Linked DNA regions of Homo sapiens. The protein of the gene in region 2 interacts with the protein of the main gene of each other region in a pairwise test. Each region holds a gene or a part of one and is shown on either strand. Other genes may lie near its edges.

Region 1 (9,011 bases), on a different chromosome or scaffold from region 2:
CTGGAGTGCTGGAGTGCAGTGGCACAATCTCGGCTCATTGCAACCTCCGCCTCCCGGGTTCAAGTGATTCTCCTGCCTCAGCCTCCCTAGTAGCTGGGACTACAGGCGCCCGCCAGTACGCCCGGCTAATTTTTTGTATTTTAGTAGAGACGGGGTTTCACCATGTTGGCCAGGATGGTCTCGATCTCTTGACCTCGTGATCCACCCGCCTCAGCCTCCCAAAGTGATGGGATTACAGGCGTGAGCCACCGTGCCCCGCCCTGCTTCCCTGCTTTTTATTTCTAACACATAATTTATTAGAGAAATTGTAAGATCATTTTGGCTAATACTACAGTATTTAGAATTTCTAGCCTTTGATATCTGGTTTGATTTCCTTTCCTCTGGAAAGAACAGATGAGTGGCTTATATTTTACAATACAGATGGAGTGAACAGATACTTCTGTTTCATGATTCGTCGTTTTCTTTGGTAGTTACATTCCCGTTAATATGGATAGGGATGCTTATTATATTTCTAGACATTGGGAAAATGTTAATTTTAAATGTACAATATGGCAAAATTATTAACATTTCTTAATTATAAAAAGATTAAATTAGATAACCTCTACAGGTCTTCTAGTTGGGGTGTTTTTTTTTTTTTTTTTTTTTTTTTTTTGAGAGGGAGTCTTGCCTTGTCGCCCAGGCTGGAGTGCAGTGGTGCAATCTCAGCTCACTGCAACCTCTGCCTCCTGGGTTCAAGCAATTCTTCTGCCTCAGCCTCCCGAGTAGCTGGGACTACAGGCGCCTGGCCAATTTTTGTATTTTTAGTAGAGATGGGGTTTCATCTGTTGGCCTCTTGACCTTGTGACCCCCCCCCCCCGCCTCGGCCTCCCAAAGTGCGGGGATTATAGGCGTGAGCCACCGTGCCTGGCTTCTAGTTTTAAAATGATACTTTATGTATGTGTATGTACTTGAATGACTTACCTTTATTCATAATTGTCCCTAATGAAGAGACCCCTGTGCACTTTAATTTTCTGTGTAATTTTGTTGTGCTTTGCATTTTAGAGCCTGGCAGATGTAGACATTTAACAAATGTTCTAGAAATGAGCTAAAATTTTCCTGTGCATTTGTTTGTTTATCACTAGTCTAAAATATTGCTTGGTTGGGGAGGGGTGTTGATGTTATGTAGTAGCTTTCATTTTGAGAGGAGAGAGAGAGAGCCTGTAATTGTTTACTTATAAAATTGTTAAGCATATTTCCTTAGAATTTAATTTATAAAAAAATTACTGTTTTTGACTGTCAATTGTTTGCTTACTCAGCAAAATTAGGATATGAAGAAAATGTAGTATTTTCTTTCCTTCTGCCATCTCCTGTGCTGGTAATATTGCTAATGTAATGTAATTGTGTGCCCTGCTATTTCACTCTGTGACTATGGCTTTTTTTTTTTTTTTCTTTTTTGCCGTATCGCCAAAAATTGAGTTAGGTGAATGGATAAAACAAAATACTACAGGCTTCCTTGGACATCCAGTGCTGAATTGCTTTGGGAACTGTTTTGATTGACTGCCTTTGCTGATTAACAAAAAGTATCACTTTTAAGAAATAAGTAAACTGAGGACCTGTTCAAGGCTTGTGAACCTTAGGTATTTATTACTGCCAGTTTTCATTTTTTGTGGTACCTGAAAGTTTATGAAAAAGTCCAAACAAAATACAAACCTTGAAAATCAGGCTTTCAAACAGTTTGCCAATTTTAAACTGAATCTTTATTATGGTTTATGGTTGTAACCTTATCTTAAAATGTAAGGTAGTTTTTTTGGTAGAAGGTTTTGTTTTGGTCTGGAAGGTAGAACTGAACTTCCTTCCATTTTCTCGATTGATAACTTTTTCGAAACTTGAACCTGCAGCACGGGTGCTAGAATATGCCTGTTGGTATGGTTTTAAAAATAATTCCTATCTTTCTGGATTGAATTGTTTTCTGAAAGTCCAGTTTTTATTTTCACTTTTTGTTTTTTATTTCTGAAGCTTTGTTTTCCTTGGAAAGTAAACCTAAGAAAGATACCCATTTGCCTTACTGGGTATCATTGAGAGAAGAGCTCATTTAGTATGCCGGTTGAAGTATCTACCCCTCTACCCTCCACCCTTTTTTTCAAGGAGCCATCATTTTTGGAATAAAAAGAAAAACTTGCTACAAGATATTAAAATCAAAAATAGTAATATTACAAACTATTTGCCTCATTCTAGTATAGGTGGTTTTAACATTTTATTGCACATCAGCTGTGAGCTGGATATTTTGCTGAAATAACGTTTTTGAAAGCAAGATACATTTGTCAGTAGCACTTGAGGCTAACGGTAGTGTTAGACATATATTCCTTGAGTTAAGTTTTTTCACAAGGCCCTTCCTCAGTTTAGATAAACTATAGGTTATTCAGAGTGTACTTACAACTTTTCATATAGTATTGGTAGTGTTTTGAATAATTTAAAAAATCATCTTAGGTTTGTTATTTAACTTTATTTATATAGTGCTTGTATTAATGATTTTGTGAATGTTTTTTAAAGATGGATACCTTGATTTGGCTTGGATAGTGGTATTAAGCTAGGTAGCTGTTGTTAATGAGTGGACAGCATAGTATGTTGATAGTGTGGAGTGTAATTTTGTTTGGTGGTAGGCACTTGTTCTGACAAGTCAAGTATATTGAGACTCTGTCGCTTGCCAGATCTTGTGCTTGATGTTGAGTTAGAAAATGTTAAATAAGAATGTACCCATTTTTAGCGGCCGGGCACAGTGCCTCCCGCCTGTAATCCCAGCACTTTGGGAGGCCAAGGCGGGTGGATCACCTGAGGTCGGGAGTTCAAGACCAGCCTGACCAATATGGAGAAACCCCATCTCTGCTGAAAATACAAAATTAGCTGGGCATGGTGGCACATGCTACTCGGGAGGCTGAGGCAGGAGAATCGCTTGAACCTGGGAGGCGGAGGTTGCCGAGAGCCGAGATCATGCCATTGCACTCCAGCCTGGGCAAAAAGAGCGAAACTCCGTCTCAAAAAAAAGAATGTACCCATCTTTGAGGAGCATGCTGTCTAGTAGAAGAGAGTCAGCACAATGCAATTAAGGTGGTGTTATGCTTCCTATAGGAGAGATTGTTAAACTTGTGGAGATGAAAGTTGCTTCTCTTAGAGGGTGAGAGGAGAAACGTGGGAGATTAGGAGACAGATACACGAATGGAGAGCTCACTAGGCAGAATGGTAGTGTTGGAGGAATGTTGCTGTGGATAGCTTGGTAATTTGGAAACTCAGATGTGGGGTTTTCACTTAAAGTAAAATTGGAGCAGCCAGAAGAAAACTAGTTTTGTTCTCAGCCAGCAAGCTATAGGGCAACAGGTAGTGTAGTTGGCTTCACTTTTATCCCTTTAGCAGCCATCAGAATGATCTTTTTTCCTTTTGGATTTTCTTGCTGTCCCTCCCCACATTTCTACTGTCTGCTTTCTCTGCCTTAAAATAAATTTCTCTTGTGTATGCTACTTTATTGTGTCAAACTTCCCTTAGTCTGCCTTTTCACTTCTTCCTTTTGTATTTTTCTTTTCTTTTCTTTTTTTTTTTTTCCAGAGACAGGGGTTCTTGCTATGTTGCCCAGGCTGGTCTTGAACTCCTGGCCTCGAGCAGTCGTCCCACCTCAGCCTCCCTAGTAGCTGAGATTATAGGCATGAGCCACTCCCTCCAGCAGCTTTTGGGTCCTTTCAAGAGATTTTTTTTTTTTTTTTTTTGAGACAGAGTCTCGCTCTGTCGCCCAGGCCTGCAGTAGTGCTATCTCAGCTCACTGCAAGCTCCGCCTCCCGGGTTCACGTCATTCTCCTGCCTCAGCCTCCCGAGTAGCTGGGACTACAGGTGCCCGCCACCGCACCTGGCCAATTTTTTGTATTTTTAGTAGAGACGGGATTTTGCTGTGTTAGCCAGGATGGTCTTGATCTCCTCTGACTTTGTGATCCGCCCGCCTTGGCCTCCCAAAGTGCTGAGATTACAGGCGTGAGCCACCGCGCCCGGCCGACTTCAGGAGATCTTTAGGCATCATTGGTTTGTGTTCTTCAGTTAAAAATAAAAAGCCAAACTCAAGACAAAGAATACAGTTCAGTTCCAGGTTAGGAAGAGGGAGAAGCTCAGCTTCTGAAGTAGTGCTATATTTACTGTTTACCTTGACTGTTATCTTTAGAAGTTGATGATTATTTTAAAAATTGTGTTAACTGCTGTTTGAACTGTTAAAGTTCCGTGCTGAATGCTATGTAGCTGTAGGTATGTATCAGTGGAAAATGTCTGGTTTGCAGTAAATGTGATTAGTGACATCTTAAGCTAACTGAAATCAGCTGGTGCATTGTCCTACACCGGTGCATTGTGCTACACTATGCTGTTACTGCTCTGTTTGCAAATTTATCAAATTGTGTAATTTTGAAAGCTGACAAAATTGTTACTTTTGAACTGATTATTTTTGTATTAGAGATTATTTAATTTGGTGAATGGTTACGCAAGTGAGATCCTTGAAGATTATAGAGCTTCATCTTTTGATGACTTGGAGTCAGGGAAGAGTTAACTATATGGAAATAGGCAGAATGCCTAGGTTCTTGTATCTTTTGTTTTTAAATCCTAGAAATGATGATTTGGATGTGGTGGCATCAAAGACTACAGAAAGGGTAGCGCTTTCTTAGTTATTCTTTTGGATGCTTATTCTTTCTGGGTGAACTTTAGAATTGTTTTGGCAATTCTTTTGCCCCCTTGCAAATATTTCCCTTTGGAATTTAGAGCGGTTGAATGAAATTGTATTAAATATGTAAAGAAATTTAGGTGTCATTGACATTATCTTAATATTGAATTTTCCCATCCAGTAATATGAATCTTTTGAAAAGGTGGCTTGAGTAACTGGATTTTTCTCGAAGTTTTTGTTTTCTTCACAAGGGTTATATACATTTCTTAAATTGGTTTCTAGATGTTTTTATATTTTTTGTTGCTTTTATGATTAGGATGTTTTTGTTGCTTAGCAAGTTAATACTGGTGTATTGGAAGGCAATTGAGTTTTTTTTGTTACTATTGTTTGTTTTTGATATGGAGTCTCTGTCGCCTAGGCGGTAGTGCAGTGGCGCGATCTCAGCTCACTGCAAGCTCTGCCTCCCGGGTTCACACCATTCTCCTGCCTCAGCGAGTAGCTGGGACTACAGGCGCCTGGCTAATTTTTGTATTTTTAGTAGAGATGGGGTTTCACCAGGTTTGGCCAGGATGGTCTCCATCTCTTGATCCACCCGCCTCGGCCTCCCAAAGTGCTCGGATTACAGGCGTGAGCCACTGCACCTGGCCCAGGCAGTTGATTTTTTTCAGTCCCTTCAGCCTCTTGCCTGAACTTGTTTTTCTTTTGTAAGAGTAGTTATTTATTCTTTTGGATTTTTAAATTTCTAGATATTTGTAAATTTATGCATTTCAAGATATGTTTCAGGGTGTGTTTCATAGTTAATAAATACTAAAAATTTTCTTTTATACCACCTTGACATTTAAGAAAGATTAGCCGCTAGAAGAAAATCAGGGTGGACACAAAAGTTGGGGACAGAAAAACCATGGACAGAAAGAGTGAGATGGGGCCGGGTGCGGTCGCTCATGTCTGTAATCCTAGCACTTTCAGAGGCTGAGGTGGACAGATCACCTGAGGTCAGGAGTTCGAGACCAGCCTGGCCAACGTGGTAAAACTCCGTCTCTACTAAAAATACAAAAATTAGCCAGGCATGGTGGTGCGTGCCTGTACTCCTAGCTACCCAGGAGGCTGAGGGAGGAGAATTACTGGAACCCGGGAGGCGGAGGCTGCAGTGAGCCGAGGTCGCGCCACTGTACTCCAGCCTGGGAGACAGAGTAAGACTCTGTCTCAAGAAAAAAAAAAAATGAAAGAAAGAATGAGATGGGAGGGGTCCCAGTGCTTGGTTGTCCTGTTGTCCTGGGCTGATTTTTGCCTATGCTAATGCGCAATACAGTGGAGTTCAGAGGAGTAAATTGATTCAGTGTAAAAATCTTACCAGCTGTTCTTAGCCTTATGTCTGGACAATGTAAATAAAACAATACTGTATGGATCTTTGCTCTTTTTTAAATAACATGAATCTTCAGTTTTTCTCTTAAACTAATATTTTATCTTGTACTTTATATGACATCTTGTCTGGGAGTTGGGGTCAGGTGAGATATTTGTGATCTCAATATTCTTGATTTCATTTGAACATTTGACACTTAAATATATAAATAAAAACAAGTAAAATTTCACTACCGTATACCCTCAAAAATAAAAACAGCTCAGTGACAGTTATATTTTGGATCCCCAAGTAAAAATTCTTGGAGAATCTTTCTTTCAGAAAGATAGCATACATTATTTAGTTAATCGTCCTACAGCTTGTCATCTTTGTCTTTACATGTGTAGTGGCAACAAGTTATTGCATACCATGTATAATCTGATAGGTAGATCACTTAAGAAAAGTTGAAGTTTTAACAGTTGACATCACTGGAAGATATTATATGAACTCTTTCTCATGCCACCAGGCAGCCTGTGACATGCTATCGAATCATCTCCCTTAAAACGAGTTGTAAATGGTGCCTTATTGGGGATTTGATAATATTTTCTGGAACTTTGCAGAATTTGTACCTTTTAATAGACAGCAAGGATTTATATGTGGATTTCTTTATGTGGCTTTGGGTGATTAGAGAAAGAGAGTTCTCGTGCTGTGGACCAAGAAGTTGCTGGGCAGTGCTGTGGCAGTAAACGATGCATCTATGATTAGGAAGAGCTTTTGCATAAAACTGTGTAAAAATGGTGGTTAGGTTTCCAGTGTATACTATAAAGAGGTAATTTTGCCTCATATATATCCCACTAGTGTTTATTATATTTTTGGAAATATGCAGGCTGAATTTTAAAGAAATGACTTACACATTTACTTTGTATCACAATCTTTTCATAAGTCAGAGACTGCCTTTGCTCAGTTTTATTAGCTGAGGAGAAATTGCCAGAAGTTAGGAAACTCTTAAGTTTGTATAACACGAGAGACATGTTTTGTTAGTATAAGACATTTTAAATTATTGACTTTTATTTTTGATACTTGTAGACGAGATCATCAGATGTTCATTCATCTGGATCTTCAGATGCACATGTGAGTATAGAAGGCAATCTTTGTCTTTTTTCCTTTAAAATTTAACTTCTCCTCATATGTATCCCTACATCAATGATTTTACTTGACAAATAAATACAATTGTATGTGCTTTTTTCTTTTACTCTTTTTTTTCTAGGCGCCTTCCTTTTTTTTTTTTATGTTCTGCTTGCATAACTTAGCCCTCTGAAGCGATGTTAGAAACCTAGTATGTATATTTCCTTATGATTTTTATTGTGTAAAAATCTGTACATACATAACGTATCTATACTTATACTTTGACTATGGGATTGCATTATGCATATGCCTTTCTCACCGCACAAAACATATGTTGGAAATCCCTGCAGGTAAACTGTTAACAGCTCTAATCTGTTCTTTCTTAAGGCATCATAATGTTCTGTGGTGGGGAAGTGCAGTTGTTTGTTATTTCTTTGTTGATGGGCATATATTTTTTGTTTAAAGCTTTCAAGTAACATTTTGGATAGATAATACTACAATAAGTATTTTTTTAATATATGTTATTACAGCAGTGTTCAAAGTGTAGTCTGAAGACCCCTGGAGTCACTGAGAATCTCTGAGAAGGGTCTGTGAATTCAAAACTATTTTGTAATAATACTAAGGCATTATTTATGCCTTTTTCACCATTTTGGCATTTGCACTAATGCAAGTGTAGCTGGAGGTACAAAAGCATTTGGTGGGTAAACTGTTGGCACTTCAGCACAGATCAAGGCAGTGACACCAGAGTATACTTGTAGTCATTATATTCTTCCCCACCAGGCACAATAATTTCACTTAAAAAACTAGCATAATTAGAAATAATTTTTACTGCTTGATGATGCAGTAAAAGTTACTACTATTTTACTACTTCATCAAGCAGTAAAAATTATTACTATTGTCTTCATCTTTTGTGTAGTTCGTCTTAATATTCTGTGTGATAAAATAAGAAGTACGTATAACACTTATGCTTACCAAAATGTGATGTTTGTTTGAGTTGAGAAATGAAACTAGCTGCTTTTTTCATGAAACACCAGTTTTACTTGGGAGTGACTGACAGGCAAACTATGGTGAATCAGACTTGGGGATTTTGGCAGACATTTTCTTGAAAATGAAGGTAACGAACCTGTTACTTCAAGGAAAACAACTGTTACCAATATAAAATTCAAGCTTGTGAGTTAGAGTTATTGAAAACTTTCCCTGTTCTTAAGAACTTTTTTGGTGAAATCAATGGTGATATTAAGGGATGTGATATTTTGATAATCTACAATGAAATTTGTCAATATCTGGCATGGCTTATTCCTAGTTTTCAGTGCTATATATGTATATATGTGTGGTTTGTTTTTTTCTCTTGTTTTACTTTTCCTGAAGATGGATGCATCTGGACCCTCAGATAGTGATATGCCAAGTCGGACACGACCTAAGAGCCCAAGAAAACATAATTATAGGAATGAAAGTGCCCGTGAAAGCCTTTGTGATTCTCCTCATCAGAATCTCTCAAGAGTGAGTATAGATAAGATAAGGTAAAGATAAGAAAGGATAGTTAATGATTTTAATCTGTCTTTGACTGAATTTAGTGGTCGAATATTTGGTTTTGTATGTGTTTCATCTTATTCTATTTGAAAATAGCATTCTTTTTGTATTTGGGATAACAGTAAACTCATTTATGTAGGGACATCTTTTTAGCTCAAATGTGAGATATTTCATTTTAGAGTTTTAAATTTTATTTGAAAAACAAAGTAGTGTTTGGATTTAAAATGGTTAATTGTCAAGTTTATCTTTCCCCACTTAAACATTTATTGAACCAAGTGCGAAATACCAGTTACTGGAAATGCACAGATCATTGAAACACTGTTCGTGTTCCCACTGAGCTTATAGTCTCACTCTGAA
Region 2 (7,000 bases):
ATTGATTCATTCAACAAATGTATAAGCAGCAAGGTATATTCTTGGATTTTATCATACAGAGATGAAAATATGCTTGCTATTCTCAAGGACCATTTAAGCCGGGAAAAGAGACAAAACTTCAATATAGAGCTAACTGTAATCTAATATGGTAATGTTACAGTATGAGTCAAATGGTGTGTGAAAAGGGACTGATTACATCTCGAGATGTTAGGGAGAGCTTCAAAAGAAAAGGTGACACTCAAGCTCATTCATGAAAGATGAATAGACGTACAATGGGAAGTCAAGCGAGGGAGCTTGGAATTCCATAAAGGCAACAGGAGGTGCAAGAAACTGGAGAAGTGAAAATAACCACAAGCGTCTAGTATACATCAGGGACTGGGAAGTAATGGTGCTTAAAAAGGTAGTTTGGAGCTATATTGTAGAGGCCTCATAAGTCATGCCAACGAGCCTCAGTTTCACCTGTCGGACAATAATACTTTCAGCTTGTACAAACTCTGGCAATCAGTCAGAAGAGATTACTGTCATTAAGCATTTCCTTAACCAGCTGGAGCAAAGGAACCCATTGCCGATTCAATGTGTCCAAACTGAAAACTCTTAGTGAGTGAAATAAAGTTGCCTGCACTGTGCAGAATTGAATTCTGTCCCTCCCAGTGCTTACTTCATTTCCCTTGGCATAAAAAACATAGTCATAGTGTCCTTGAACTGCTTGTGATACATTTTGGTGTTCAAGCATACTAGAGTTAATGTTTCATTATATGTGCTAAGCATTTTCTTTTCAAAGCCCGAATGTTGTTCTGGAGCATATCAGTTACGCCTTCTTATTGTTTACTACTTATATTATTTCTTTTTTTTTTAGACAGAGTCTCGCTGTGTCTCCCAGGCTGGAGTGCAGTGGTGAGATCTCAGCTCACTGCAACCTGTGTCCCCCAGGTTCAAACGATTCTCCTACCTCAGCCTCGCGAGTAGCTGAGATTACAGGTGCATGCCACCATGCTCGCTAATTTTTGTATTTTTAGTAGAGGCAGGGTTTCACCATGTTGGCCAGGCCGGTAATGAACACCTGACCTCAAGTGACCCACCCACCTTGGCCTCCCAAAGTGTTGGGATTACAGGCATGAGCCACCGTACCTGGCCTATTCTTTCATTTTTAATGCCCATATAAGAATGCTATTTGATTCTCTATTATAAAGTTACTTGTTGATGACAAATATTTAGAGTTGTAAATTAGGTTTAGCATTTGTTGCTATCCTCAAGCCAGATAAAGAGTGAAAATAGGCAGTAATACACTTTGGGATATCAGGATTTGGCCTCTGAAACCAGACTTTTGGAGTTCTAATTCTAAACTGCCACTTCCTAGCCATGTGAACTTGGGGCAATTACTTCATCTCTTTCTGCCTCAGCTTTCTGTCTATAAAGTGGACCTAATAGTAATTGCCTACCTTATAGTTGAGTTGTTTTCTGAGTGCATGTGCTTAGTAGCTAGGCACCCTCAATAAATGTTTTATTAATGCTCAGTCAGCAACGGGTGATGTTATTGTTAATATTGTCATTATCGTAAGTGTTGCGTGAGGGTTTTCTTTTGCAAGGCATCAAGAGCTATAGGATTCAGCTTGTCAAAATATGCTTCTGTCAATTATATTGTGTGGTCTTAGGGTGGCATGCAGTACATACAGCTGCCTGTTTACCAGAATTATATAGTGAATCAGCTGGGATCTATCAACTTCATTCCAGAGTTCAAGGCCTTGGTTATTTATCTCCTTCATTGTAGGAGTTCCCAAAAGTCGACGAGGAGAAATTTGGCAGTTTCTGGCTTTACAGTACCGACTCAGACACAGATTGCCTAATAAACAACAGCCTCCTGACATATCCTATAAGGAACTTTTGAAGCAGCTCACTGCTCAGCAGCATGCGATTCTCGTGGATTTAGGTATGTTTGTCATGTGGATTATAATTTACAAAAGTAAACAGCTGATCCCTCTGTTAAGTTTTTTTGGTTTTTGTTTGTTCTTGGTGCTGATAAAGAGCACCTGTTGGCATATGCAGAGCCGTTGACTTTGTCCTTTACTGAGGGCAAGTTGGCCTTATACCTGATTGACGATCCCATAAATGCCTGCGTGTTAAATGAAGTTTTCACCCCAAAACTTTGCCTCTGCAAAGGGAGCCATCTTATATTTAAATTATTATAAAGGTCATATTATGGGGTGCTCTCAGTTACTGCATTTTGAACAACTGACTTTTTAGGGCAGATAGTTGTATCTTAATCAATGCTGGTTTTGAAATAGCTTAGAATAGGTTAAAAATTTAACAAAGGTGTACTAGGTATTCCTGGACACACTGCTGAAAACAATCCTTTATATGTCACTTTAAAAAGCAGCATGATAAATGGTTATGTTGGTGGAAATTATGACTATACACCTATAGGGTGAGTGAAACATTAGTTGCACTAATAGTGTAGGAATGGGTACTCATGACCTGGCGGAGAATTTCCAGTGACAGAATCATAAAGCAGTCTTTTTTTTTTTTTTGAGATGGAGTCTCCCTCTGTTGCCCAGGCTGGAGTGCAGTGGCACGATCTCTGCTCACTGCAAGCTCCGCCTCCCAGGTTCATGCCATTCTCCTGCCTCAGCCTCCTGAGTAGCTGGGACTACAGGCACCAGCCACCACGCCCGGCTAATTTTTTTTTTGTATTTTTAGTAGAGATGGGGTTTCACCGTGTTAGCCAGGATGGTCTCAATCTCCTGACCTCGTGATCCACCCGCCTCGGCCTCCCAGAGTGCTGGGATTACAGGCATGAGCCACCGTGCCCAGCCAGCAGTCTTCTTAAATGCTGATTTTCAAATAACTTATGGAAATAAAAATGCTTTGATTTTTAAAGATTGTATTGTCTCTAATTTTTCTCTAACATACTTTATTATTTAAAAATATCTACATTATTAGATTAAATATTATATATTGGCATTTGACCACTTTATTTGTACTCCTAAAAGTTGATATATGTCAGGTGGCCAGATATGTTATTTGGGCCCATTTGGGAAAATACAAGATTACCTTATGTTTGGGGTCATCTTATATTAGGGCATATGAAAAATCACTAGCCAAACCCTAGTTTTTACCTCTGTTCCTTTTGGATGACAAATGGCTCTTACTGGGAAAGGACCCAGCTCAGTTAATTATTTTTTTGAGCCCAGCGGAATTAAAAAGGGGATTTTACAGAGAAACTGAAAATGAGTTTTTGTGCTGATTGTGCCACTAATTGTGGTCTTAGACATATTACCTTCCTTCTGAGCGTCCATCCTCTCTACTAAGTGGGGACATTGAACAAGGCAATCCCTATGTTCCCAAGCAAATCTGTGGTTCTCTGACCATAAATTGATGATACAATCAGGGTTAGTCACGATGTCCTATTAAAGAGAGAAAATGAGATCATATTACAGTCAGACAAAAATGGAGCTAGAATCAAGTTAATGGATAGAAAGTGTATTTATAGTTTTCCTTAGTAAAAATTTTAAGTGAGAAAGTAAAACCATAATTTTAAAAATTGCTTATTTGGCTCTGCTTGTAGCCATCTGTGTTTCTTCAGCATGCAATTGTTATTTTCTCATATCTTCCTCTTACTGGCTCTGCAGAATTAATCTTATTGGTTCCTAGAAAAAAAAATCACTTTTAAGCATATGTGGGAGAAAACATTTTAAAACCTGGCACTCTTGCAAGTTCTAAATGACATGAGTAATCATTTCACAAGGAAGCTAACATCCCCCTTCATTTTTGTGGCCCTAGAAAAATGCCCATACCAATATAGACAGCTTTGATGTGAAGACGGATTTGTTTCTGTGTATAGAACTCTCCTTTTAGTGATGCAGGACTCACATTGCCAGCTCAAGTGTCTCTGTGGTAATTTTATACCTAGAGGTATATTTTAGAGGGGAATTTATTTGAAATTGACTTGACCCTTTATTTTCCTTGATATTTTTAGATATTGAAAAAGAAAAGTGGTTTACATGGCTCATGGAGGTATTTTAAGAGCAGAGAGCGAACGATAGTTGAAAAAGCAGTTTTCTTCTGAATGACAGTCTGAATGTAAAGTCAAACAAACCCAAAAAGTCCCTCCAGTGTCATAAGAAAAGCAGAAATAAACCTGTTTATAGACTATGAAGATTTTCTTTTAAATAATATAATATGTCTTACAGACTTCTGGTTTCATTTAGAAGGTAGTCTTTATATGAATTAGAATTTGCCTTGCTTTATAGTCAGAATAAAATTTATATTCCATTTTCCTGGTATTTCTCCTGGGTACATCATTGGTTTGTGGATTTTTATTGTATTTTTTTTTTTTTTTTTTTTTTTTTGCTGGAAAGAAGTACTGGTTAGCATAAAATGTTTCCTCCCATATCGTATATGTGAAGATGGTATGGTGGCCTGGCAGAACTTGGGGTGAGAGAGGGAGAGACTCTTAGTTACATGGTGACTCTAAGCAACTCTCACTGGTTTGGGAAAGAGTGTCTGTTTATTCTTGGAGGTCACTGAATTGCAATTTCACTGTTGTCTCCAAGGCATGAGGACATTTCAAAAAATATTTTCCTTCTTTTCCTCTGCAGGAAGGACGTTTCCTACTCACCCTTACTTTTCAGTACAGCTTGGGCCAGGACAGCTGTCACTGTTTAACCTCCTGAAAGCCTATTCTTTGCTGGACAAAGAAGTGGGATACTGTCAGGGGATCAGCTTTGTGGCTGGAGTCCTGCTTCTGCACATGAGTGAAGAGCAAGCCTTTGAAATGCTGAAATTCCTCATGTATGACCTCGGCTTCCGCAAGCAGTACAGACCTGACATGATGTCGCTGCAGGTGAGGCACTTGTGCTTCCCGAGGAAGGTGTGAGACTATTACCAGAAATCCTGGCCCTCTTCTCAATTATTACAGTTCAGATTTAAAGAAATGTAGAGCCATTGTCTTAGAACTTGGGTAAAGATTGGGGCATGTTTTAGTTCACTTAGTGTGGGATTTGCTATTTAGGTAAACTTCTAAGTGTATGAGACCCAGAGGCAGAATACCTTTTCCATAAAATTCCTGAAGTAAGTAAATAAGTAATTTAAGAAAGGTAGGTGATGAGGACCCAGTCCTTTATGCCCTAAGTCTATGGGTTACATGGAGAAGGTATCAAATCATCTTTATTCACTTTTTCTCAACTTCTCAGTTGAAAAGGCTCACAGATCTTTTGTTTACAATCTGAAAGTATCTTTATCCCTTTACTTTTGAGTACACAAATAGCAGATACCATGTTATGGTTCTTTTTGAACTTATCATTGATATCTCCCCTCCTTTATCTTCATGTAAGATAGGCCTTTACAGAGGAAAAAGTGTGAAAGCCAGTGGTGCCTTTTCAGTCTGCTTTGTGTGTGTGTGTGTGTATGTGTGTGTGTGTGTGATGGAATCTTGCTTTGTTGCCCAGGCTGGAGTGCAGTGGCACGATCTCGGCTCACTGCAATCTCTGCCTCCCGGGTTCAAGCCATTCTGCTGCCTCAGCCTCCCCAGTAGCTGGGATTACAGGCAGGTGCCACCATGCCTGGCTAATTTTTTTGTATTTCTAGTAGAGATGGGGTTTCACCATGTTGGCCAGGCTGGTGTTGAACTCCTGACCTCAGGTGATCCGCCCGCCTCAGCCTCCCAGAATGCTGGGATTACAGGCTTGAGCCACTGAGTCTGCTTTTCTTAGCAGGCTCTGAAGAAGCACCATTAAGATTTTCCAGGTATTTTGAGTGGGGTATTAACTGCCACTGCTGTCTTTAGCCTACCTCAGACTCCCTGTTTGCACATTTCTCTCCTAGTTTTCACTTCTCTAAGTGGGTTGGTTGCTAATAAGCAGTTTAAATTTTGTCTATAGATACTTAAACAACCACTGCCTGGCAATTTAAAGCTTTCAGTGGTTAAAAATATAAAAGAAGACTTTAAAGAGGATTCTCAGGTTTTTCCTCCCTTGAAATGAGGTATGCATGACTCCCAGTTCATCATAATACTGTGCTTTAGATAAGAAGTAATAGTTTAAAGATGCTTTTAAAATATACTATTTTTTTCTGTTTCCCAGAGATGAGTTTTTTGCCTTTAATATCTCAGTTGCCAATGTATAACAAAAGAATTGTATTTTTAGTCTGAGCGTTATAGTAAATGATATTTTTTGAGAGTATGAATGGAGATGAAGTATTCCATTTTTCTTTACTTTCTGAAGGTAAAATTTTGACTGGGGAGATAGGGCTTTGCTATCAACATTAGGTTTTCTGGTGTGAGTTCATATGATTTGATTCCTCATTGATGACTATTCGTAGGTTTAACAAGTCAAATAACAACTGTGGAAAGTTTTATTTTTTATTCCTAAAGAGTTTACCTGTATCTTTTTATCTTTTTATCGTTTTTTTTTTTTTTGGAGACGGAGTCTTGCTCTGTCACCCAGGCAGGAGTGCAGTGGCGCGATCTTGGCTCACTGCAACCTCCACCTCCTGGGTTCAAGTGATTCTCCTGCCTCAGCCTCCCGAGTAGCTGGGATTACAGGCATGCACTACCATACCCTGCTAAATTTTTTGTATTTTTAGTAGAGTTGGGGTTTCACTGTGTTGGGCAGGCTGGTCTCAAACTTCCGGACCTCAGGTGATCCACCTGCCTTGACCTCCCAAAGTGCTGGGATTACAGGCGTGACCCACTGTGCCTGGTCACCTGTATCTTAATATCAGATAGGAATCAGATGGTCTTGTAAGGAATTCAATAATTCTGATTTTCAGAAACAACGGTTTGGTAGCTATTATTAGAATTTCAAAGATACAGGGAAGTACCTGTGAGTAGTGTTTGATCTGGGTCCACAGATAAAAGGATAATAGCTATCAGTTTAAAAATACAATGATATTTCAACTTAAAAATTATTCATCAATTTGACATTACAAAAATTCATGTAAATCGGATTTATACATTCATTTAATATGGACTGTAAGTACCAAGAAGTATTTTATGTCTATAATT

Evidence for each region.
Region 1: the proteins of TBC1D4 (region 2) and U2SURP interact in a two-hybrid assay, tested with the Homo sapiens proteins (one study listed by BioGRID and IntAct).

Annotation. Positions count from the first base shown.
Region 1 is NC_000003.12:143,003,730-143,012,740, forward strand, and holds part of U2SURP (U2 snRNP-associated SURP motif-containing protein), read left to right. Parts: intron 1-7,085; coding exon 7,086-7,130; intron 7,131-8,492; coding exon 8,493-8,624; intron 8,625-9,011.
Region 2 is NC_000013.11:75,297,170-75,304,169, reverse strand, and holds part of TBC1D4 (TBC1 domain family member 4), read left to right. Parts: intron 1-1,768; coding exon 1,769-1,927; intron 1,928-4,595; coding exon 4,596-4,840; intron 4,841-7,000.